Linked DNA regions of Homo sapiens: regions 1, 2 and 3 are each linked to region 4. Evidence: fine-mapped expression QTL. A gene starts in region 4. Each other region holds a variant in brackets. All regions are shown on one strand. Distances are from middle to middle. Region 1 overlaps MBTPS1 (membrane bound transcription factor peptidase, site 1). Region 2 has its middle 14 kb from the start of MLYCD. Region 3 overlaps HSDL1 (hydroxysteroid dehydrogenase like 1). Region 4 holds the start of HSDL1 (hydroxysteroid dehydrogenase like 1).

Evidence for each region. PIP is the estimated chance that this variant, and not a neighbour inherited with it, causes the effect. A credible set is the group of variants that fine-mapping cannot tell apart.
Region 1: its variant is the best candidate, but not a certain one, in a credible set for the expression of HSDL1 in blood mononuclear cells (TOPMed, PIP 0.73).
Region 2: its variant is the best candidate, but not a certain one, in a credible set for the expression of HSDL1 in fibroblasts (GTEx, PIP 0.83).
Region 3: its variant is the best candidate, but not a certain one, in a credible set for the expression of HSDL1 in cerebellum (GTEx, PIP 0.61).

The regions. Positions count from the first base shown.
Region 1 is chr16:84,108,032-84,113,031 of GRCh38, reverse strand. The region is part of intron 1 of MBTPS1 (membrane bound transcription factor peptidase, site 1); the gene reads left to right. Among named protein-coding and RNA genes, the nearest start is that of MBTPS1, 6.4 kb to the left of the region's middle. The variant T/A (reference allele first, on the strand shown) is at 3,072.
Region 2 is chr16:83,881,604-83,888,115 of GRCh38, reverse strand. No RefSeq gene overlaps it. Among named protein-coding and RNA genes, the nearest start is that of MLYCD, 14 kb to the left of the region's middle. The variant A/G (reference allele first, on the strand shown) is at 3,800.
Region 3 is chr16:84,120,367-84,126,878 of GRCh38, reverse strand. It overlaps HSDL1 (hydroxysteroid dehydrogenase like 1), which reads left to right. Exons shown (of 6, transcript NM_031463.5): 6 at 2,151-4,738. The coding sequence ends at 2,249. It also overlaps the pseudogene LOC648774. Among named protein-coding and RNA genes, the nearest start is that of MBTPS1-DT, 6.6 kb to the right of the region's middle. The variant G/A (reference allele first, on the strand shown) is at 2,876.
Region 4 is chr16:84,140,851-84,147,163 of GRCh38, reverse strand. It overlaps HSDL1 (hydroxysteroid dehydrogenase like 1), which reads left to right and starts at 1,987. Exons shown (of 6, transcript NM_031463.5): 1 at 1,987-2,084. It overlaps DNAAF1 (dynein axonemal assembly factor 1), which reads right to left and starts at 1,856. Exons shown (of 12, transcript NM_178452.6): 1 at 1,600-1,856. The coding sequence starts at 1,723. RefSeq lists silencers at 1,803-2,252, 2,413-2,462, 2,513-2,562.

The DNA.
Region 1 (5,000 bases), 33 kb after region 4:
TTTGTGCCACTCTCTTACCAGAAAGTATGATTTATTCTTTTTTTTTTTTTTTTTTTTGAGATGGCATCTCGCTCTGTCTCCCAGGCTGGAGTGCAGTGGCTTGATCTCAGCTCACTGCAACCTCTGTCTCCCAGGTTCAAGCGATTCTCCCACCTCAACCTCCTGAGTAGCTGGGATTACAGGTGTGTGCCACCACACCCAGCTAATTTTTGTATTTTTAGTAGAGATGGGGTTTCACCATGTTGGCCAGGCTGGTCTTGAACTCCTGACCTCGGGTGATCTGCCCGTCTCGGCCTCCCACAGTGCTGGGGTTATAGCTGTGAGCCACCGAGCCCGGCGTATTCTTTTTTTGTTTTTTTTTGTTTTTTTTGAGACCGAGTCTCGCTCTGTTGCCCGGGCTGGAGTGCAGTGGCGTGATCTCAGCTCCCTGGAAGCTCCGCCTCCCAGATTCACGCCATTCTCATGTCTCAGCCTCCTGAGTATCTGGGACTACAGGAGCCCACCACCACGCCCAGCTAATTTTTTTTGTATTTTTTAGTGGAAACGGGGTTTCAGTGTGTTAGCCAGGATGGTCTCGATCTCCTGACCTCATGATCCGCCTGCCTCGGCCTCCCAAAGTGCCGGGATTACAGGAGTGAACCAATTTATTTGAAAAGTTTTTAAAAATACTAAAATATGTTTTATCTAAGTATAAAAGTAACATATGCTCCCTATAAACAAATAAATTAAAGCAGAAATTAACTATCTGTAATCATACAATTGAAAGGTAGAACCACTGTAACCATTTTGGTATGTGTCTTTCAGTGGTTTTTTTTGTTGTCATTGTTTCCATTTGAGACAGTCTCTCCATTGCCCAGGCTGGAATGCAGTGGCTTTATCTCCGCCCACTGCAACCTCCACCTCCTTGGTTCAAGCGATTCTCCTGCCTCAGCCTCCTGAGTAGCTGGGATTACAGGCATGTGTCACCATGCACAGCTAATTTTTTGTATTTTTAGTAGAGACAGGGTTTTGCTATGTTGGCCAGGCTGGTCTTGAACTCCTGGCCTCAAGTGATCCGCCTGCCTTGGCTTCCCAAAGTGCTGGGATTACAGGAATGAGCCACCGCACCCAGCTGCATTTTTTTTTTTTTTTGCTCATAGACACATTTTAAAATTGAAATGTAAAAATTTGGATTATGTGGTGCATGAACTGTTTTACTTAACATTTCATTAGCATTTCCCCATATTTCTATTGTAACAAATGACCACAAACAGTGGCCTAGAACAACATGAATTTACTGTCTCACAGTTCTGGATATCAGAAGTCCAGAATCCGCCTCACTGAGCTCAAGTCAAAGTTTCAGCAGGGTTGTCTCCGTCTGGAGGCTCTGTGGAGAGAATCAGTTTCCTTTTGTTTTTCAGTTTCTACAGGCCACCTGCGTTCCTTGGCTCCTGACTTCTTCCTCAAATTATCTCAACCTCTTGATTGCTTTCTTTTTTCTTTTTTTTTTTTGAGATGGAGTCTCTCTCTGTTGCCCAGGCTGGAGTGCAGTGGCACAGTCTTGGCTCACTGCAACCTCTGCCTCCCGGGTTCAAGTGATTCTCCTGCCTCAGCCTTCCGGGTAGCTAGGATTACAGGCACCCACCACCATTACCTAGCTAATTTTTGTATTTTTTGTAGAGACGGGGTTTCACCATGTTGGCCAGGCTGGTCTCGAACGCCTGACCTCAGGTGATCTGCCCGACTTGGCCTCCCACAGTGCTGGGATTACAGGCGTGAGCCACTGTGCCCAGCCAGCCTGTTGCTTTCATCATCACATCTATTACTACCTGTTGTCATCTCCTGCCTCTCTCTTATAGACACCCTTGTGATGACACCTGGCCCACCTGGATCACCGAGGATACTGTCTCAGTGCCTTCATTTAGTCACAGCTGCAAAGTCCCTTTGGCCTGTATGCTTTTGTGTGTAAAGTAACATTCCCAGGTTCTAGGAATGAGGATGTGAGCATCTTTGTGGGGACCATTTTTCAGCCTACTGCAGGAGGAGCATTTGAAATTGCTGCGTGGCGTTCTGTGGTGTGCACCGACCATAATTATTGAGCCAGTCTCCTTGTTTATGCACATTCAGATGGTCTCCAGCTTTTCCTGCTCATAATCTTGCAGTGTGTATCTTTGGACATAAAGCCTTATGTGCTTCCAGATTCATACTTCTTGGATTGAATCCCTAGGGGAGATTTTAGGAAAGCAGGCGACCTGCCTCTGAAGAGTGTGGCCTCTGGAGCCAGGCTGACCACCTGAGTTCTCAGCCCAGCTGTTCTACTTGCTGGTGTTGTGGCCCCAGGCAAGTTGCTTAGCTACTCTGGGTCTCAGTTCTCATCTGAAAGTGGGGGTAGTAACGGGTTGTTGGGAGGATTAAATTAGTTAATATTTGCAGACTACTTAGAATGGCACCTGCTACATCATAAATGCTCAGTGAGTGTTTTTCTTATTTTGGATTTGTTAGACGAAAAGTTTTTAATGTTCATTTTTAAGCGTTTTAATACATATGTGAAAATTGCCATTCTAAAAGGTTGTTTTTTTTTAATATTCACCAGCAACATATGAGAGTACTTATTTTATTGGATTTGTTAACTTAATAAACATAATTTTTATTCTAGAGGGGGTGCCTCAGGTTTTTCTGTCAAAATGTTACTTGATTTGTTTAATGTAAATCATAGAAACACAGGTTAATGTTAGCAGAAATTTACCATGAATCCTTTCAGGAATTCTGTCAATTTCCTAGAATGAGATATGCTTTTAGTTTCCCTTTAACTAGCTCAGTCCCATCTTTGGATGTCCTTCTACGTAACAATTGATGAGTGTAAATCTGTCTGACGTGTGTGGTCTGGTTATGTATGCAGTGATCAGCACTGACTGAATCTGAATAAGAGGCTTAGAATGTGCCTGTCACCACATTTAAAATAGCCCAGCCTCATGCGTCCTTGGCAGGTGAGGGTAAATAAAGAACTTATTTTTTCTGCCTGTTTTGGAAACAGGCTGAACCTAACAGGAAGGTTGCACGAACAGTATGAAACCATTTTTTCTCTAAAGCAT[T/A]TGAGAGTAAATTGCAGACCTGATACTCCATTATCCCCCGGTGTTTTAGTGGGTGTATTTTCCAAGCAAGGACCTTCTTACATAATCACAGCACAGTTGTCAAAATCAGGAAATTAGTCTTGATACATCACTACCATCTGATCCACGGGCAGGCTTACTTGGGTTTTGCCAGTTGTCCCTGAGTGCCTGTTACAGCAGATGGATCCAGTTTGGATTCATGAGTTGCACTGACTCTGGAGTCTCCTTCAATCTGGGGCAGTAGCTCAGTCATTCTTGCCTTTCATTACCTTGGTGCTTAGGAAAATTCTAGGCCAGTTGATTCTGTAGAATGTCCCTCAATTTGGGTTGGTCTGATGTTTCTCATGATTTGATTTCAGGTTGTGCATCTTTGTCAGGAACCTCCCAGAAGTGATGCCGGCTCTTCTCAGTGCATCTGCTCTCGTAGACCTGGCTCCGTGTGTCCCATTACTGCTTCCCTTGGACAACTTGGTGGAGCTTCTCCACTGTAAAATGACTTTTCCCTTTGAAAAGAGATATTTTGTTGGCAGTTGGGCATTTTGACATGATGTAAATATCTCATTCTTTTTCAAACTTCATGTCATTGTGGACTCCTGTTTTCCTGTTTTATTCCACGGGTTGGGATCTGTTATTATTTATCGTGATGCTCAGATTGTCCCGGATTTTGTTAGTGGGGGCCCCACCAAACTGGCTTCCATGTTCCTTGGACACTTCCCCATCATTCTGTGAGCCTTTCCTCATTGAGTGACACTGTTCCAAACCCATCTTGTTCTTACCGTACCCAGACTGGAACTAGTTCTTTGTCCAAAGAGCCTAGGTTCTTTTAGTGGAGAGTGATATTTAGAACCAATTGTGGGCAGTAGGTGGGCTCCTTGCTGTTGGGATTTCACTGCTGCCACACCCTTTTGGAGATAGCTAGGAAATGTGTGTAGCACGTACACGTGCACTTAGATTTCTTTCTTTCTACATCTGTTAGTCTATGTATTGAAAACCTTAAATTCAGACCAGCATTTATCATTTTGTTCTGATACTGAATGGTTCATTTATTTTTTCTCTTTCATATTTCTAACTTTCTTCTCTGACAGTAAGAAAGCCGCATCCCATTATATGTAAAATATTTATTTGATCAAACAGTTTTACCTTCACTGCTATCACCCCACTGCCTGCCTGGTGCCTTCTTCACTTGCCAGGCTCTGACCCCCTCACCTGGTGCCTCTCCCTTCACATACCTTCCTCACTCCGCTCAGACTCTTAAGACCCTGTAGTGGGCTTCTGCCATTCTCCCATGAACGCCTGCCTTCTTGTCTTCAGCAGAATTCTTCAGGAAGGGAAGAAGAAAAGGCAGAGTTAGCACTCTTTAGAAAGTGCTTTTCTTGGGCTGGGCGCAGTGGCTCACACCTGTAATCCCAGCACTTTGGGAGGCTGAGGCAGGTGCTGGATCACCTGAGGTCAGGAGTTCGAGACCAGCCTGGCCAGCATGGCAAAATCCTGTCTCTACTAAAAATACAAAAATTAGCTGGGTGTGGTGGCGTGTGCCTGTAATTCCAGCTACTCAGGAGGCTGAGGCAGGAGAATCGCTTCAGCTGGGAGTTGGAGGTTGCAGTGAGCAGAGGTCGTGCCATTGCACTCCAGCCTGGGCAGCAAAGTGAGACTCCATCTAAAAAGAAGAAAACAGTGCTTTTCCTTAGGTTTGTGTGTCTGTATCTGTGTGTGCATGCTCTGTCTGCCTGTCCTGCTGCTGCTTGTCTGCTTACCTCTCAGTGGTGAGCCCATCTTGGGAAGTGTGCCCATCGGGTTTGCATTGTATAGTGAGAACCAGGAGGGACCATTCGTCACAGCTGAATAGATGTATTAGACCCTGGAAAGTGCAGTCTGTGCTTGCAAAGCCTCACTGACTTGTCTAGTGAGTCT
Region 2 (6,512 bases), 260 kb after region 4:
CTCTAACTTCCTTAGAGCAGTTGTGGAAAATTAATTGGGATATTTTATGTAAACTTCTTGAAACAGTGCTGGGGACCCAGGGACCCAGTGGTGTTAGTCCTCCTGCTTATCAGAGATGAGAAGAAGGGAAGGGAGTCGAAGACCCTTCAGCTGAGGTGGGGAGAAGAGTATGTGATGCTGTGGTCAGGGATGACCAATAAGAGACCTTGTGGGAGACAATGGCTCATAGGACTGAGAGGGGAGAGCTGAGCTGGACAGGGACGGGCTTCCGGGTCAGAGATCCAAGCATGTCCAAGCATGGAGGGTGGGCGGCTGCAGCGTCAGCTAAGCCTGTAAGGACAGCCAGCAGCCCACACAATGGTGGTCATGCAAAGGACGAGAGAACAGCAGTGCAGTCTTTGTCTTCCTCCCTCCTTCTGAATTCCCCGCTGATGTCTGTGTCAGCTTTCACTCATCTGGTGGCCGTATGTTGCCACGTGAAAAATATTGAGTTACAAGACATTATACCATGATGCTATTTTAATTTTTTTAGAAAAGCACTCTGAAAGAAGGTTCACCAAAATGTGAACAGAAGTTATTTCTGGGCGATGGGTTTTTTAAAACTGTCTTTTAAACATATTTTTGAGTTGCCTGGGTTTTTTAAATTACAACGAGCATGCATAACTTTTAATAATAAGAACGAGTCATATTTTTTCCCATTTCCATTTTGGATAAGAAAAAGAACCTATATTTATCTAGCATCATAAGATGTTATGAATCGACGCATCTTCCAGCAAGCCAAGTTTTATCTTTATTAGATGCAATTCAATGCCATGAACATTTGGGGCGCAATGACTCCGTGCCAGCTGTTGGCCCTGGTGTTACAAGAACAAATAAAGCACAATTCCTGCTTTTAAAGAGCTCAGAGTGTCGAGCAATGACTTCTGTTCTGTGTTTATAAAAGCTCACAATTTCTGATTTAATATCTATAATAAATACAAGTCAATATCTTCTTGATAACTCAGTGTCCTCACCAAACCCGAGTTAGTGTGAAACTGTTTGTTGGGAATAAATCCGTATTGTACGGGATGCACTTCGTCATGCTCCTGGGGGCTCCTGCGTTGACACAGTGGGTCACTTATTGCTTAGACTAAGTGGTCTTGGACTGTTATGATTTTCTTGCTACTCAGTAAATAATAATGACGTACTTTCCCTCCTGAACACTGACTACATGTTAGGCACGGTGCTAAACTTTGACATGTATGATCACATTTTATTCTCAGAGTAACCCATGAAGGATGGGCTTTACTCTGTTGTCAGTCTTACAGATGAGAAAACTAAGGCTCAGATAGGTTAAGTAACTTGCCTAAGGTCACACAGCTAGTCAGTGGACATGCCAAGACTTGAACCAATTTCCGGCCGATTCCAAGGCCTAAGACGTTCATCTCCAACCTACGCACCGTTCTGTGCTCAAGCTATGTTTGCGTGTTATAGCACATTTTAGGTTCCAAAGAATTTGGAATTTTCCTAGAATCAATTCTTGTCCCACGTGTTCTTCTACAATCTCGCCAATTCCCCATCAGAGGGTGGAACCTAACTCTCTTCCCCTGAATCTGGGTGGGCTTGTTTGGTAGCTGAGGATTTCACCGCTCAGGTCTCCCTTCAAGAAAAGAGTTACTTTTCAGCTGTAAGTGTGGTCTGCACCTGTTAGCACCACCAGGGTGTGTCTTCGCCTTCAAGCCAAGGCCACTCTCTTTCTGGACAGTCTCAGCCAATGACTAAGCAGGGCAGGGGTCTAGGGCCTGGCTGTTTCTGTTCATCATGGGACTCTTTGTCCCAGAGCATGAAGTGGGTTGGCCAAGACCCTGTCTGATCTATGCTGCCACCTGAGACTCTCCTGCACCATCCCGTGTCCCCTCCTTTCCCTTTACAGCTGTTAGAGCCACACTGTGTCCTGAAGGCCTTTCCAGCCTCCTTCTGCTTCCTCCTCCCGTTCTCTGTCTCAGGTATGACTCCCAATCAACTTCTTGACTCCTAACTCCCATCTCGGTGTCTGCTTCCCAGGGGACGCATCTGACACAGCCTTTTGCTTGCTTGTGACAAACAGAACATTGCAGAAGTGATGCTGCGTGACCTCCAGGATAAAGCTATAAAAGGCAATGCAGCTTGCACATTGTTTGCTAGAACCCTCACTCTTGAAGCTTTCAGCTACCACTTAATAAGCAGTAAGCTCAGCTCCCCTGAGGATGCCACACTGTGAGGAAGCCGAAAGTAGCCCACATGAAGAGACCACGTGGAGAGGCCCTGAGAGAGAGAGAGAGAGAGAGAGACTGATCAGCCCTCATGAACTCCAATTCCTTGGGATTCTACTTCCAGCCATCATTGGACTAAGACCACACGAGAGACCCTAAGCCTAACTCATCCTGAATTCCTGATCCACTGAGACCCTGAGAGACAAAATATTGTTGTTTTAAGTCACTAAGTTTTGGGCTGATTGGTTACCGAGCAATAAATAGCTGGCACAAGTACCATGTGGGCTGTGGTATGTGAGCGTGGGGCCTGTCATTTTTCATAATCCTTCTGCAGCTTTACTATTCTGTGGGAGCTCAGCATAGTAGGTGTTCCATTCGCATTTGTTACCGTTTTGTATGCTCAGTGAGATTACAGATACGGGCCAGTTCCGAGCTGCCTGGAAATACATATGTAGCAATTTAAACATTTCCTTTCTAATTAAATTGTGATGAGAATCCATTCTAAGACGCCCTCCCAATATTTGTGGATAAGAAAAACAGAGGGTGCTTCTGAGGTTTAGGATTAATATTATGAGACTATGAAACTCAAAATTATGAGACCCCTCATGCTAAATAAGCAGAAATGACTGTGCATGAGATACTGGCTCCTGGCCAGTCTCAACATAGTTATAAAGACATATTCAATCAGTGCCAAGGAAAGAGAAGTCATCCTTGTATCTCCTTAGCCCATCCCAAATCTTTACACAGGCTATGACATTGATTCCGAGCTGGGCAGACTTGGGTTTGAATCCCATCTTTACCCATGTAAATGTAACTTGGTTTGTAAAACTGTTGGCAGAATCCACTAAAGCTGAACATATGCATTCCTATGTCCCAGCAGCTCCCTCCAAGGTATATACCAAACATGAATATATATGTATATTCACCAAAATACATGTTTTGCGGTGGGCAGGGCTGTGCAAACCTACCCCAAAGTGCAAGGAAGCCAAGAAGCCTAAGAAAAAGGCTGACAAATCCAGTGTCTTAGTAAGAAACATTTAATAGGGACTTAGGAACAGAAGACATGTCTGTGTCTTGGGTGGCAGTGGGACAAGATGGTGGATCCCTGTGCCACTGCTGCTGAGATCCAGGGCTTATACACCATAGGGGAGGGGTAGTTCTGAAGGGTTGTGTGGGACAATTGAAGTACTACAACATCAGCGTTGCCTGGCTAAGGGCAGGATTCATGGCAAGGACCTGGTCTCACACAAGGAACAATAGATACACTTGAAATCTTAAAGACCTTCCCAGAACAGGGGTTAATCACAAGCCAACGTGGTAGACTAGCATCCAAGATAGAGTCGGTTTGGCTTCCACAGACATGCACTAGAATGTTCATGGTAGCCCAGGGTTTAAAAGCCCAGATCTGGATACTATCCAAATGTCCGTTGTGTTAGTTTTATATTGCTACATAACAAATTGCCACAAAATTAACAGATTAAAACAACACATATTTTTGACCTCACGGTTTCTGTGAATCAGGAGTTAGGTCGTGGACTCTGCTTCCGAATCTCACAAAGCTGCAGTCC[A/G]TGCAGGCTGCTGTACACAATACCACAGACTGGGTGGCTTATAAACAATAGAAATTTATTGCTCACAGTTATGGAGGCTGAGGAATCCAATATCGAGGCAGCTGCAGACTCGGTGTGTAATGAGGGTCCACTTTCTGGTTCATAGATGGCAACTACTAGCTGTGTCCCTACATGGTGGAAGGGATAAGGGGTCTCTTTCGGGCCTCTTTTATAAGGACGCTGATCCCATTCATGAAGGCTCCACCCTCATGACCTCATCACCTCCCAAAGACCCCATTTCCTAATACCATCACCTTGGGGGTTAGGATTTCATATGTTGGAATCCTATTGTAAACACAATTGCAAGGTGTCTGCTAGGCAGTAGTCTCATTTCCAGGTTCAGCAGGTGTAGGGTCCACTTCCAAGTTCACATGTGCTTGGCAGAATTCAGTTCCTTGTGGCTATAAAACTGACGGCCTCAGTTTCTTTCTGGATGTGAACTGGAGGCCGCCTTCACTTCCTTGCCACAGGGGCCTCCCCAACATGCCACTTGCTCTAACAAGGCCTGCAAGGGGGAAAGTGCTCTTGAAAGGTGGAGGTCACAGTCCTGTGTAATGTAACTGTGAGTGGATTCCATCATACCCACTGTATTCTATTGGTTAGAATCACATCACACACTCCGCCTACTCTCACATCCATCAATGGCAAAATGCATAAATAAAGCATGGCACGTTCACACGGTGGAGCAGTCCAAGGCAACGAGAATGAAGTCTCAACCTACACAGCCATAGGATGCATCTCCAAACAGATGATGGTGTGAAGGTGGCCAGACACAAGAGAGCCTATTCTGTGTGATATCATGATATAAAGTTCAAAAATTGTCAAAACCTCTGCTGTCAGGGGTCAGGACAGTAGTTACTTGGGATGCAGTTAGTGACTGGGACCATGCACACCTTGCCTATTGGATGAGAGGCAGCTCAAGGCCCTCTCGCTCTCCCAGCTCATGTGTGAGAGAAGAACCAGCAGGGGCTGAGAAGCAGCTCTGAACCTTGTTTCCGGCTTCAGAACCAAGTGTCTAGCTCTGATCCAATCGGCTGTGGCCAGAGGCAGTTCCTTCCAAAGGCAGTGGGAACTGATACACCATATAAATGGCTCTAATGGGCCATGCGTGGTGACTCACACCTGTAATCCCAGCATTTTGGGAGGCCAAGGCAGGCAGATCACCTGAGGTCAGGAGTTCAAGATCAGCCTGGCCAACATGGTGAAACCCCGTCTCTACTAAAAATACAAAAATTAGCCAGGTGTAGTGGCAGGCACCTGTAATCCCAGCTACTCAGGAGGCTGAGGCAGGAGAATCACTTGAACCCAAGAGGCGGAGTTTGCAGTGAGCTGACATCGTACCACTGTATTCCGGCCTGGGCGACACAGTGAGACTCCTTCTCAGGAAAAAAAAAAAAAAAAAAAGGCTCCAATGACAGCCCCCAAAACTTCCCATTTCACATTTGTTAGCCGCCAAGCCTACGCCAGCTTTGCCCACCCTTTCAGGGGCTTTGATGAAACCATCATTGCTCTGTCTTCTCTTCTTGGGAGACAGCGGCAGGTGGCTGATCCCTGGTCATCTGCACAGGGTGTGGACAGCAAGAACTCAGTGCCCTGTGCTCTCCCTGGTGCCCGGCTTTGGAGCTGGCAGGGAAGTGCTTGCACCATGGTACAGGGACATTAGTCTGCGGAATGGATATCATTTCTGACAGACGCAGGACAAGGAGAAACAGATTTGCCCCTAGAGCTGAAAGTTTAATTTCAGCTGTAGGCTTTCTCCAAATGGAATGAGAGATGGCAGGAGTGAAAAGCAAAACTAACAACAGTGGGCATTCTCTTTTCTCCATCACACCCTCTGTGTTTTCAATGGCCAAAGCACATGGCTGCCCCCCAGAAAGGGCATCAGTTCAGTCACAGAAATGGTGGTGTTCAGCTGCTGCCTGAATGCTTTTTGTGAAATCCGACACCACTGCATCACTCTCCTGCTCAAAGCTTTTCAACACTCTCTCTCGGCTGTCAGCAGTGGCTGGTGCCTCCAGCATTTTGGGTTTCAAGCAGTTATGAGTTTTATCCCAAATAACTGGGTACTGTTAAAAGTTAACACATGGCTGTTTGTAGGGGATTTAAACTTTTTTGTAATTGGAGTGAACTTCTGAAAGGCAAACGTTAGAATGTTTCTAGGTACTAGCACAAATGGTGAACAGCCAATGTCCATCAACAGGAGAATGATAAATTGCGGTATGTTCATTGAATGGACTACTACACAGCAATAAAAAAGAACAAGTGACCAGTACACACGACATGGACGGATCTCATAAACACGATGATAAGTAAAGGAAAACAGACAGACAGACTATGCACCGTGTGTTCCACTGACATGAAAGGAAAGATGAAGGAAAACTAATCTATGATGATCAACGTCGGAACAGTGACTGCATCTGTAGGAGGTGTGTGCATTTACAGGGAAGGGAGCCTTCTGAGGTGCTGGGAAAATTCTTTATTTTTATGTGAGTGGATTACACAGATCTGTATCTATGTAAAAACCATAGAACTGTATGCTTAAGATTTGGACACTGTAGCTCCATAAAGAATAGGTTTGAAGTTATCCACGTTAATAACCACATCATTCTTGGCCAGGTGTGGTGGCTCACACCTGTAATCCCAGCATTTTGAGAGGCCAAGACAGGTGGATCAC
Region 3 (6,512 bases), 20 kb after region 4:
ATTTTCAACACTATCATTTTTTATTTCCAATTTTACATCAAAGATTTGATTCATCCTTTGCTGTTTTGTCCATGGCATATTTCTCTGATAGCTTTTGCTGCTGTGATTTTGTTCACAAAGTGCGTGAGTGTGTGTGTGTGTGGGTGTGGGTGTGTCCTCCCTGGAGAGTAACCTGTGTCCATTTATTGACAAGAGGATTGAATGACCTCTATTATCATTCATCAGTTCAGTTCAAGACTAGAATGTCAGTACTTGCCAAGGGCCTGTCTCTCTTCTCTTTCGTATACACGGTGTTAGAACTTTCATTCGGTTCTGAACAAATCTGTTAGAGGAGTGTAGGCTTTCTCCACCTCAGCACTGTTGGCATTGAGAGCAGGTAATTCCTTGACATGGGGAGCGTCCTGTGTATTGTAGGATGTTGAACACCATCCTGGGCCTCCACCCACTAGATACCAGTAGCATCCACTCCCAGTGTGACGACCAAATTTGTTTTCAGACATTGCCCTATGTCTGCTGCTAGCACAAAGGCCCTGAGTGAGACCCTGAAGCAGAGCAGCATCAGCAGGACTCCCTTCCCTGGTCCCCTGAGCACCCCCATCATAGGTCAAGATACCATCCCAAGGTACTGGTGTTTCTGACCTGTTTTCTTGTTGAACTTTGTTCCATACTACCCCTCAAGCCCCAGTTTTCTCATAGAGTACTAACCACGTATGCGTCTGTCTGTTCCAACTGATTTATTCCTATAATGATTTTGTGGTGTTTTTTTTTTTTTTTTTGAGACAGAGTTTTGCTCTGTTGCCCAGGCTGGAGTGCAGTGCCGCGATCTCGGCTCACTGCAAGCTCCGCCTCCCCGGTTCACACCATTTTCCTGCCTCTGCCTCCTGAGTAGCTGGGACTACAGGCTCCCGCCACCACGCCTGGCTAATTTTTTGTATTTTTAGTAGAGATGGGGTTTCACCCTGTTAGCCAGGATGGTCTCGATCTCCTGACCTCATGATCCACCCGCCTCGGCCTCCCAAAGTGTTGGGATTACAGGCATGAGCCAGCGTGCCCAGCCGATTTTGTGGTTCTTAACCAGTGAACATTTTGTTCATATCACGTTAAGTAAAGACAGAATTGTATTTACATGCAGGACAGTCCAGCCTCATTACAGAAAGTCGGGTAGGTGGGTGGTGGTCATGTTTCTGTTCCATGTAGAATCTAGGGTAAGATCTTAGGCAAAAGTAGGTATTCAGTACAGTAGTACCTGGAGGCTTTTTCCTTTGTTGTATTTAATGTGATTGGTGGGTATTTGTTGTGACTGGTGGGTATTTGTTGTGATTGATTGGTGGGTATTTGTTGTGATTGATCGGTGGGTATTTATTGTGATTGGTGGGTATTTGTTGGGATCGATTGGTGGGTATTTATTGTGATTGATTGGTGGGTATTGTGATTGGTGGGTATTTATTGTGATTGATTGGTGGGTAATGTGATTGGTGGGTATTTGTTGTGATTGATTGGTGGGTATTGTGATTGATTGGTGGGTGTTTGTGATTGGTAGGTATTTGTTGTGATTGATTGGTGGGTATTTGTTGTGATTGGTGGGTATTTGTTGTGACTGGTGGGTATTTGTTGTGATTGATTGGTGGGTATTTGTTGTGATTGGTGGGTATTTGTTGTGATTGGTGGGTATTTGTTGTGATTGGTGGGTATTTGTTGTGATTGATTGGTGGGTATTTGTTGTGATTGCTTGGTGGGTATTTGTTGTGATTGGTGGGTATTTGTTGTGATTGGTGGGTATTTGTTGTGATTGATTGGTGGGTATTTGTTGTGATTGCTTGGTGGGTATTTGTTGTGATTGGTGGGTATTTGTTTGATTGGTGGGTATTGTGATTGGTGGGTATTTGTTTGATTGGTGTGTATTGTGATTGGTGGGTATTTGTTATGATTGATTGGTGGGTATTTGTTGTGATTGGTGGGTATTTGTTGTGATTGGTGGGTATTTGTTGTGATTGATTGGTGGGTATTTGTTGTGATTGGTGGGTATTTGTTGTGATTGATTGGTGGGTATTTGTTGTGATTGGTGGGTTTCATGTGCTGGTCTGTGTACTTGTTCCTTCAGTGTTGATTTTGGGTTCTAACCTTACAACCTTTTTCTCTTTCATTTTTAGTTTCTTTTTGCACAGTATATGCCTGAATGGCTCTGGGTGTGGGGAGCAAATATTCTCAACCGTTCACTACGTAAGGAAGCCTTATCCTGCACAGCCTGAGTCTGGATGGCCACTTGAGAAGTTTTGCCAACTCCTGGGAACCTCGATATTCTGACATTTGGAAAAACACATTTAATTTATCTCCTGTGTTTCATTGCTGATTATTCAGCATACTGTTGATTCGTCATTTGCAAAACACACATAATACCGTCAGAGTGCTGTGAAAAACCTTAAGGGTGTGTGGATGGCACAGGATCAATAATGCCTGAGGCTGATTGACGACATCTACATTTCAGTGCTTTTTCCCTAAGCTGTTTGAAAGTTACGCTTTTCTGTTGTTCTAGAGCCACAGCAGTCTAATATTGAAATATAATATGATTTGTCAGGTCTTATAATTTCAGATGTTGTTTTTTAAGGGAAATTGACCATTTCACTAGAGGAGTTGTGCTGGTTTTTAAATGTGCATCAAGAAAGACTACTGAAAAGTATTATTTTGTAACTAAGATTGCTGGTACTATTAGGAAAAATCTGTGTGTATTGTATAGCTCTAGCTGTTTGACTATCTGTAATGAAAATGCTGCACTTCAACTGGTATTTCATTAGAGAACCGTGTGTGTGCGTGTGTGTGGTGCCTTTGAGCAACTTTATTTATGGTTACCATATTTTTAAAAAGATTTTTTGTCAGG[G/A]TGACTTAACATGGACTCTTATAGGGTATTAAAACAATCTAGATTATTCCTTTTCATCCTAAATAAGCCTACCAAATTTCATGCTGTTGGTTTGCCATGAATGATATTACTTCCTACATTATATTTGTGTTTTTTCAAATCTGCTATGGAATGAACTTATTCCTAGATTTGGATATGTAAGAGAAACCTGCAGTCATCTTTTGATTTATAAGGCAATTCTTGTGGATAAATAGTGATTTCTCAGCCTCTGACCCATTTTATAACTGAAATTTAGCCCTTTAGAGCTTGTTATATCTGGTTTTCCTACGTTTTTCTATGTAATATTATTCCATTCCAGTAGCATTATTGATAGAAATAGTAAGTATTTATGGAATAGTAAAATATGGACAAATTACGTGTGTGACATATCTGTCAATATAAGTTAGAAGCTTATTCTTGGTTTGTGTAATGAATTTATGTATTGTAGTGAATACCTTTACTGGTGTGAAGATAATTATGCACAAACCCTCACAATACGCGTTAACATTGAAACCTGTGAAATGTCCTTAGTTTGGGTCATATAAAGCCAACCATTTTTGAGGACCATGTACCTAGTGCTTTGAAAACTCTAAGTCACTATATGAATATGACAATATGTGCACATTTAAAATTCAGAGCTCGGCATTGTGATACTGATGCAGAAGCTAGTAGATTGGTTAAAAGTCTGGACTTCTGTGGCATTTTTTTCGTGACGTGATAATCTATCATAAGCAGACCTAAGCACAGTTTTATGAACACAATTTTGCCCATGACATTGCCTACAGGATTTCCAGATGTGACTTGCACTCAGAAGATCAGTGGTCAACTTCAGAAGCTCTTCCACGCTTAGATCATGTCTTCAGAACTTAGATGTGAAAATCTACACACTGGGAGATGCTGTGAGCCCCAAGGTTTTGATGGAGTTTGCTTGGAATCCTCTTGACTTCATGCCACATTGACGTGAACTTTGATGTATAATAAGCAGCAGCAACTTCATGTGAAAATATGGTCAGGTAGTTATATGTAAGGTTACGTGGTCCAGTAATGTCTTAGATTGATAAATTAGGTATGGAATCCATCAGTGTTACGTGATGAGAATAGGTGAACACACCTTGTCAGTGATGATGTAAACTTCTCTCCTTGGCAGGACATGGGCAAACATGCTGATTGGTGCAAATGTGGTGCCGAGCTGTCCATAGCTGCAGTGAAAGATGAAGAGCAAGACCTTCTCTAGGTTTTCTAGCTTTCATTAAATGTATTTTTTTCCCCAGAGCTAATTTGAAAGTTGATTGGACCACTGTGGATGGGGTGTCATTAAGAATGTGGGAAATAGGGGCCGAGTGCGGTGGCTCACACCTGTAATCCCAGCAGTTTGGAAGGCCAGGGCAGGTGGATCGCTTGATCCCAGGAGGTCGAGACCAGCCTGGGGAACACATCCTGTCTCTACAAAAAATACAAAAATTAGCCAGGCAGGGTGGTGCATGCCTGTAGTCCCAGCTACTTGGGAGGCTGAGGCAGGAGAATTTTTTGAGCCCAGGATGCAGAGGTTGAAGTGAGCCAAGATCGTGCCACTGCACTCCAGCCTTGAGACAGAGCGAGACCCTGTCTCAAAAAAAAAAAAAGAACGTGGGAAATATGAACCTTTGAAAGTTAATCTGTGAATTGAAAGTTTAACAATAAAAGTAGTTGTTTGTTTCCTTTGGAAGAGTTTTGTTCCAGATGTTTGTAATTTGGTTGTTTGTAATTTGGAATGAGAGAATTTTTTTTTCTTAGGAGTGATTGCAAGAAATTAACATGAACAACAGTGGTCATAACTGATTAAAAGCTGACACGTCAGTAACAAAATTGTTTATAACTATGTGCCTAGTCTTTGGAAGCTACTGGGTTGACTTCTGGATCTCTTTCTCTTGGTAGGTTGAGTAAGGTGAGGATTGATTTGAGCATGGAATTTGGCTGTGTGGATGGAGATCATTGGTGATTTTTTTCCATGAGCCATTTCAGTCTTCAGGCTAGAATTGTAATGGATTCAAGAAAGAGTGGGAAGAAGAAAAAAAGGGAAGAGAGCAGATAGAGACAGCTCCTAGGAGACTTTCCTGTGTTTTCCTATCCTCAATTACTTAAAATCTAATCACATTTGGGAACCAGAGGGTTAGATGGTTATGTCCTCAAAACCTATTCCAGTCAATTTATGTCTCAGTCTCAGTATTGGCTTATGTGTTATTTATCTTTTTAAAAATTCATATATGTTTAATGAGTATAAAGCCAAGCACAGGACAGTCGTGAATTCAGTAGAAATATTCTCTGTTATTCCTGGCCGCGTGCAGTGGCTCACGCCTGTAATACCAGCACTTTGTGAAGCCGAGGCGGGCGGATCATGAGGTCAGGAGTTTGAGACCAGCCTGACCAACGTAGTGAAACCCCGTCTCTACTAAAAATACTAAAATTAGCCGGGCGTGGTGGCGCGCCCCTGTAATGCCCGTTGCTCAGGAGGCTGAGGCAGGAAAATCACTTGAACCCGGGAGGCGGAAGTTGCAGTGAGCTGAGATCGCACCACGACACTCCAGCCTGGGAGACAGAGCAAAACTTTGTCACAAAAGAAAAAAAAAAAAATATTCTGTGTAATTCCTATGGTGAGACTGAAAGGGAAGGGAGGCAGCTCTAGAACCCACTCTGGAACGTGCACAAATAGAACTTCCACTTCCACAGCAAGCCCCCCTGCGAGGGCGATGTGCTCTGGCCAGCCCCGCACAGCGCCACTGTTGAGGGCGGGATGATGGTGCTGCAGGCATGGAGACAGGTGCTCCCGGGGGAGGGGGTGGGCAGGCTCATGGCCTTCCCGTGGCGTGACGTTGACACCCTTCTTCAGTAAGTGTTTGCTCAGGTGGTTGTGGAAATACTTAGGGGGGTGACCTCCATCAGTGAGTTGGATGGGAACACACAGTGGGGCAGGACTTGTGTCATCATGCTTTGTGGACAGTAGTTTCCGCTTATCCACAGTTTTGTTTTCTGAGGTTTCAGTTACCTATGATCAATCGAGGTCCGAAAATATTCAATGGAAAATTCCATAAATAAACAGTTAATAAGTTTTAAATTGCACACAGTTCTGAGGAGTGTGATGACATCTCGCACCATCCCACTCCCTCCTGCCTGGGATTGGAATTCTCCCCATGTCCACAGCTTCTGTTCAGGTAACCCTTATTTTACTTCGTAATGTCCCCAAAGCCCAAGAGTAGTGATGCTGGCACTATGGATATACCAAGAAGCTGTAAAGTGCTCTTTTAAGTGAAAAGGTAAAACTTCTCCACTTAATAAGGAAAGAAAAACATTGTATGCTGAAGTTGCTGAGATCTGCAGTAAAACAAATCTCTCCATGACATTGGAAAGAAGGAAAAAGAAATTCATGCTAGTTTTGCTGTCACACCTCAAACTGCCAAAGTTCCAGCCACGGTGAGTCCCAAGACCATCCACCGGAGGTCTTGGAACATGTCCCCTCGGATAAGGGAGCACTACCGTAGGCACTGCAGGCTGTCACGGTGTTGTCGAGGATAAGGCATGTGTGACACTGTTGTCACACAGCTGATACCCTAGGCTGTGCTTGTTGGAACAGTTTACCTGCTCA
Region 4 (6,313 bases):
CTATATGCTGGGACATTTAATTATAATTCTCTCCTTATACTCCTGTATAATTATTCCAGCTTACAGATGAGGAGACTAAGGCTCCGAGAGGTTAAGCTCTGGGCCAACAGCCATAAAGCTGGCCAGCTGCTGAGCCTCAACTTGAACCCAGTGTCAATGGCTCCAAGACCAGTGTCTTTCCACTGAGTAATGCCAGTTCCCTATGGCTCCTCATACAAGGTTCATCTGGACAGTTGATGCTTAAGATATATTTGTTGCCTGGAACACAAATCAGCTGGTTTATTTGTTGCCTGCGTTCAGAAACTGGAACACAAATCAAGTGGTTTTTTAATGTAATCACTAAAAGGTTTCCTTTAGGGCACCAAGTCTAGTGGGAGCAGAAGCTGAAGCCAGGCTTCCTTCTTTCCTTTTTTTTTTTTGAGACGGAGTCTTGCTCCATTGCCCAGGCTGGGGTGCAGTGGTGTGATCTTGGCTCACTGCAGCCTCAGCCTCCCCCTTGGCTCACTGCAACCTCTGCCTCCGGGGTTCAGGGAATTCTCCTGCCTTAGCCTCCCAAGTAAGTGGAATTACAGGAGCACGTCACCACGCCCTGCTAATTTTTGTGTTTTTAGCAAAGACAGGGTTTCAATATGTTGGCCAGACTGGTCTCGAACTCCTGACTTCAGGTGACCCACCTGCCTCTGCCTCCCAAATTGCTGGGATTACAGGCGTGAGCCACCGTGCCTGGCCATGAAGGTTATCTTTCAAGTCCATTCTGGCAAACTTTGGTGAGGGGATCACACACTGACCCCAGAACCAAGTCTTCATTCGGACTCTCTACCCTAGGTCAGGCACTGGACTAGACTCCAAATTCAATCAAGATGTCTTGCCCTGACACAACATGCAGTCTGGAGGGAGAGAAAGCCTTTGATCTTACATAGTGATAGCAATAAAGGGACACATTTAAAGCATCAAAGTTGGGACCAGGGAGAATAGCGTGGTGGGTTAGGGCTGGGGCTCTGGAGACCCAGACTGTCTGGGCCTGAGTCTGGTGGGTTTTGTTTGCTTGTTTGTTTGTTTGTTTGTTTGAGACGGAGTCTCCCACTGTCGTCCGGGCTGGAATGCAATGGCGAGATCTTGGCTCACTGCAACCTCCGCCTCCCGGGTTCAAGCGATTCTCCTGCCTCAGCCTCCCAAGTAGCTGAGACTACAGGCGCCCGCCACCACGCCCAGCTCATTTTTTGTATTTTTAGTAGAGACAGGGTTTCACTATGTTGGCCAGGCTGGTCTCGAACTCCTGACTGACCTGATGATCCGCCCGCCTCGGCCTCCCAAAGTGCTGGAATTACAGGCGTTGAGCCACCGCACCCGGCCAAGTCTCTTCTGTCACTGACTAGCCGAGGGTTATCTGTTTGGTGCAAGTTTTGTAACCTCTTAAGTATGTTTCCTCCTCAGTACGAAATGGCGAGAGAAGCCCCTACTGCAGAGCGTTGCTTGCTACCATTATTATTATTGTTATTATTTGGCTGTGAAGATCGGGTATGTGGTGTGGGAAGGGGGCTGGAGCGCCTAGCCGTGTCTGCCCCTCGCCCACCGCCCTCCCTGGGGGGCAGTCGGCACCTTCCTTGCAGCCCCCTCGGCCTGCGCTCCCGTGGTCACCCGCAGACTCCTCCACGCCGGGCTCCTGCGCGCAATCCAGCTCTGCTGCACCACCTGTCGCAGGCTCCGAGGGCTCAGGGTGCATGTTTACTTCGGCGACACCGAACGCCCCGCAGCTTTGGGGGGCCCAGGTTCGCGGCGGACGTCGCTACGGCCCCAGCCCAGCCAGAGAGTACCCTCTTTCCTTCTTCGCCAGCCGCTGGCGCCCTAGTCTTTACAGCCCAACGCTTCCCCGGTCGCCCAGGCAACCGCTGCGCACGCGCACTCGGGACGGACCGGCGCGCTGGGGACGCCGGGGGGTGGGGGCGGGTCTGAGACGGCTCCGCCCCCGGCGCGTACGCGGGTCACGTGAGGGCGCGGCGCGGCAGCAGCTCCGGCGGCCGAGACGGGGGCGGCGGCCGCGCGGGTCTGGCGGGACCGGTTTGGAAGACTTTGCCGGCCTGCAGGTACCGCGCCCCCCGCGCCCTGGGCGCCCTCTCGCGGTCCTTTCGCCCCAGACCCCTCCTCGGTCCCCTCAGCGCCAGCCGGCTGCTTGGCGAGACCCCTCTGAGCTCTCACCACGCCCCCCAGGCCCCGGGCCCCCTCCGCTGCATCCGGCCCCGAAGCCCCTTGGCGCCCCTGACCCCAGGAAATCTTCGTCCCTCCGTCCCGTGAGACTCCTTCCTTCAGACCAAAAAGCCCCAGCCCCGCCCCTTCACATCTCAGAGCCCCCCTTCCCCCGGCTCCATCCTCACGCCCCCCGCCGCGGCGCTGCACCCCTGTTCTCTCTCTTCCCCCGGGCCTTGCCCCCCAAACCGCGAACCCCGTTGTCGCCGGCGCATGCCCTGCCCTCCCTGCAGCCTCTCACCCGGCTCCTCCCCCGAGCGGCCCCAGCAATCGCCTCCTTTGTCGGTGCTTCTTTATTCTCATTTCTGAACGATTTGGTTTGAGTTGTTGTTGCCGTGTTTTTCTAAAATGGAAATATGCAGCGGTCGTGGGTTCAGCCAGGATTTCCGAGTTTGCTCGTGTTGACTGGGCCTTGCCGGGTGCTGGAGGGGAAGGGCTGGGAAGAAGAACCAGGCAGGTCCCCGTTCTGAACGTGCCACCCAGACGCAGCCCCAGAAACCGGATCGCTGCAGCGCCCCTCGGCGATCCCAACATGATGTGTACAGGTGACTGCGAGGCAGTCGGGGGGTCTCACAGTGGGCTCCCTGGACAGGACTCTGCGCCTTGCTATACCTCCATCTGAATTGCAGGTAGCCCCTTTCTGAGTTGTGGGGTCTTGGGTGTGCGACTTTACATCTATAAGACTCAATTTCCCCATCTATAAACGGGAGAGTCTGACTGCGCTTTATAAGATTAATGAGAGAATAAAGTGAGACAATAGGAATAAAGCACTTAGCAGAGTCTTTTGCATAAAGTGAGCTCTCAATTTTACTCTGACCGCCACAGGAGAGAGAGAGAGAGAGAGAGGGAGGGAGGGAGAGGGAGAGGGAGGGGGAGGGGGAGGGTGTTGATTGATTGATTGATTCAGACAATCTCGCTCTGTCGCCCGGGCTGTAGTGCAATGGTGCCTGCGATCTCAGCTCCTGCTACCTCTGCCCGCCATCCCGCACCCCGGGCCCAAGTGATTCTCCTGCCTCAGCCTTCCGAGTAGCTGGGATTACAGGCACGTTCTACCACACCCAGCTAATTTTTTTTTTTTTTTTTTTAGTAGAGACGGGGTTTCGCTGTGTTGGTCAGGGTAGCCTTGAACTCCTGGCCTCAAGTGATCTGCCCGCCTTGGCCTCCCAAAGTTCTGGGGTTACAGACATGAGCCACTGTACCCGGCCAAGTTTGTGGTTTTAATCACTGCTGGAATATTCTAGGGCAACAGAGTTGAACATATTGGTGCTACTTTTTTTTAAAGTAGGTTTTCAAAAATCGAAATGACTTACGCATGACATAAAATTTATCATTTTAGCCATTTTACAGTGTATAACTCAGTAGTTCTTGCTATAGTCACAATGCTATGCAACCATCACCAGTAACTAATTCCAGAACATTTAATCACCTACAAAAGAAACCCCAACCCCATTAACAGTCATACCTCTTTTCTCCCCCTGTCCCTCAGCAGCCCTAAGTTATCTTCTGTCTCTATGGATTTGCTTATGCTGGACATTTCATACAAGTGGAAACATACAACATACGGCCTTTTGTATTTGGTTTCTGTCCTTTAGCATAATGTTTTCAAAGTTTATCCATGTTGTAGTATGTATCAGTACTTCATGCTTTTTTATGGCTGAATAATACTCCTTTGTGTGGATAACACCACATTTTGCTTATTCATTCATTTGTTGATGGACATTTTGTTTGTTTCTGCCTTCTGGCAGTTGTGAGTAGGCCACTGTGAACATGCAAGCAGGAGTTTTTATGTGAGCAAAAGTTTCTAATTATCTTGGGTATCTGCCTAGGAGTGGGGTACTCTGAATATTTTAATTCTTACTGCATAAATACAGACATGATGGTGAAGAGTGTTGGATCTTGGATGAGAATCCAGGTTTCTAATTCCATGTTGCTGCTCTTTAGGCTCAGCTTCATTGTGCGTTTAGTCCTATACCAAAAATTGGCAGTGAAGGTAAAGACATCCCAAAAAGTCTTGATACACCAATGCTAACTTTGTCATAGTGCTGACGCAGAGTATGAAAAGCTTAAGTTTTTTTCTCAAGAGTGAAATTTGAGCTTTGAACACAAAGCAGTATTTGATTCTGTTTATTAAATAAAGTTGTCTACAGCAGCATGTCAGGTGCTGAGGAGGAATATTAAAGATGTGTGAGATCCGGCCGGTCACATCCCAGTGCTTTGGGAGGCCAAAGTGGGCGGATCACAAGGTCAGGAGTTCAAGACCAGCCTGGCCAATATGGTGAAACCCCCGTCTCTACTAAAAAAGAAAAAAATACAAAAATTAGCCAGGCATGGTGGCACACGCCTGTAGTCCCAGTTACTTGGGAGGCTGAGGCAGAAGAATTGCTTGAACTTGGAAGGAGGAGGTTGCAGTGAGCTAAGATCGCGCCATTGCACTCCAGCCTGGGTGACAGAGTGAGACTCTGTCTCAAAAAAAAAAAAAAAAAAAAAAAGATGTGTGAGATCCCAGCCTCACACCATCACAAAACGCCAGGAGGATTAAAGACTTAAACTGAAAAAGCAAAAATGTAAAATTTCTAGAAAATAATTCGAAAAAATTTCTTCATGACCTGAGGCTAAGGAGGGATTTCTGAAATAAAACAAACCCTAAAGCAGAAAGATTGATATATTTGTCTCTTTCAAAATTAAGACATTCAGCCAGGTGCAGTGGCTCCCACCTGTAATCCCAGCACTTTGGGAGGCCAAGGCAGGTGAATGGTTTGAGCTTACGAGTTTGAGACCAGCCTGGGCAACATGGTGAAACCTCATCTCTACACACACAAAAAAAATTTAACTGGGCTTGGTGGTACATGCCTGTGTCCCAGCTACTTGAGATGCTGAGGTGGGAGGATGGCTTGAGCCCGGAAGGCGGAGGTTGCAGTGAGCTGTGATCATGCCACTGCACATCAGGCTGGGCAATAGAGCCAGACCTTGTCTCAATAATAATAACAACACATTTAGTTCATGAAAGACACTATAATGAGACACAAAACATACAGAGAGCTAGTATCTAGAATATTTAAAGAATTCTTACAATTCTGAGAGAAAAAAAAGGAAAGGACAAAAGATAGGAACGGGCATTTCATAGATTACAAAACACAGAAAGCACATACATATAAAAAGGACTGCAGCCTTACTAGTAACCAGGGAAATGTAAATTAAAACCATAATGAGATACCATTTCACAGCCACCCTGTTGGCAGAAGGTGAAGCTTTGGACGCTACCAGCCAGTGACATTGAGGAGTGGCACGAACCTGCTGCTGGCGGGAGTGTGAATGGGTTCTGCCGCTTTGCAAAAGCATTTGGCAGTGGAATGCATGTGGACCAGCAGTTAAACCATGGGCAAATCCCTTTGCGAACTCTTGCACAGGTGTGCAGGAGATGGGGACAAGCGCTCCCTGCAGCACTGTTCCTAACTGTAAATCAAAACCAGCAGAAACAGTGCACGTGCCTAGCACCAGCAGCAGGGGGACCTGTGAATCGTGGTGTATCTGAACCAGCAGCAGGGGGACCTGTGAATCGTGGTGTATCTGAACCAGCAGCAGGGGGACCTGTGAATCGTGGTGTATCTGAACCAGCAGCAGGGGGACCTGTGAACTGCAGTGCATCTGAACCGTGAGATACTGTGCAGCTGCCGAGGAGGATGGACTATATAGCTGCAGGGGCATGGATGAGTCTCGGGAATGATGTTGAGTGAAAGAAACAAGTCACCAAAGGGTCCATGTGGTGTGGTTCCTTTATGTGAGGTTCAAAACCAGGCGAAACTTAGCAATACTGTTTTTTTTTTTGTTTGAGACGGAGTCTCGTTCTGTCGCCCAGGCGGGAGTGCTGTGGCGCGATCTCCGCTCACTGCAAGCTCCGCCTTCCGGGTTCACGCCATTCTCCTGCCTCAGCCTCCCGAGTAGCTGGGACTACAGGCGCCCACCACTGCGCCCGGCTAATTTTTTGTATTTTTAGTAGAGACGGGGTTTCACCGTGGTCTCGATCTCCTGACCTCGTGATCCGCCCGCCTCGGCCTCCCAAAGTGCTGGG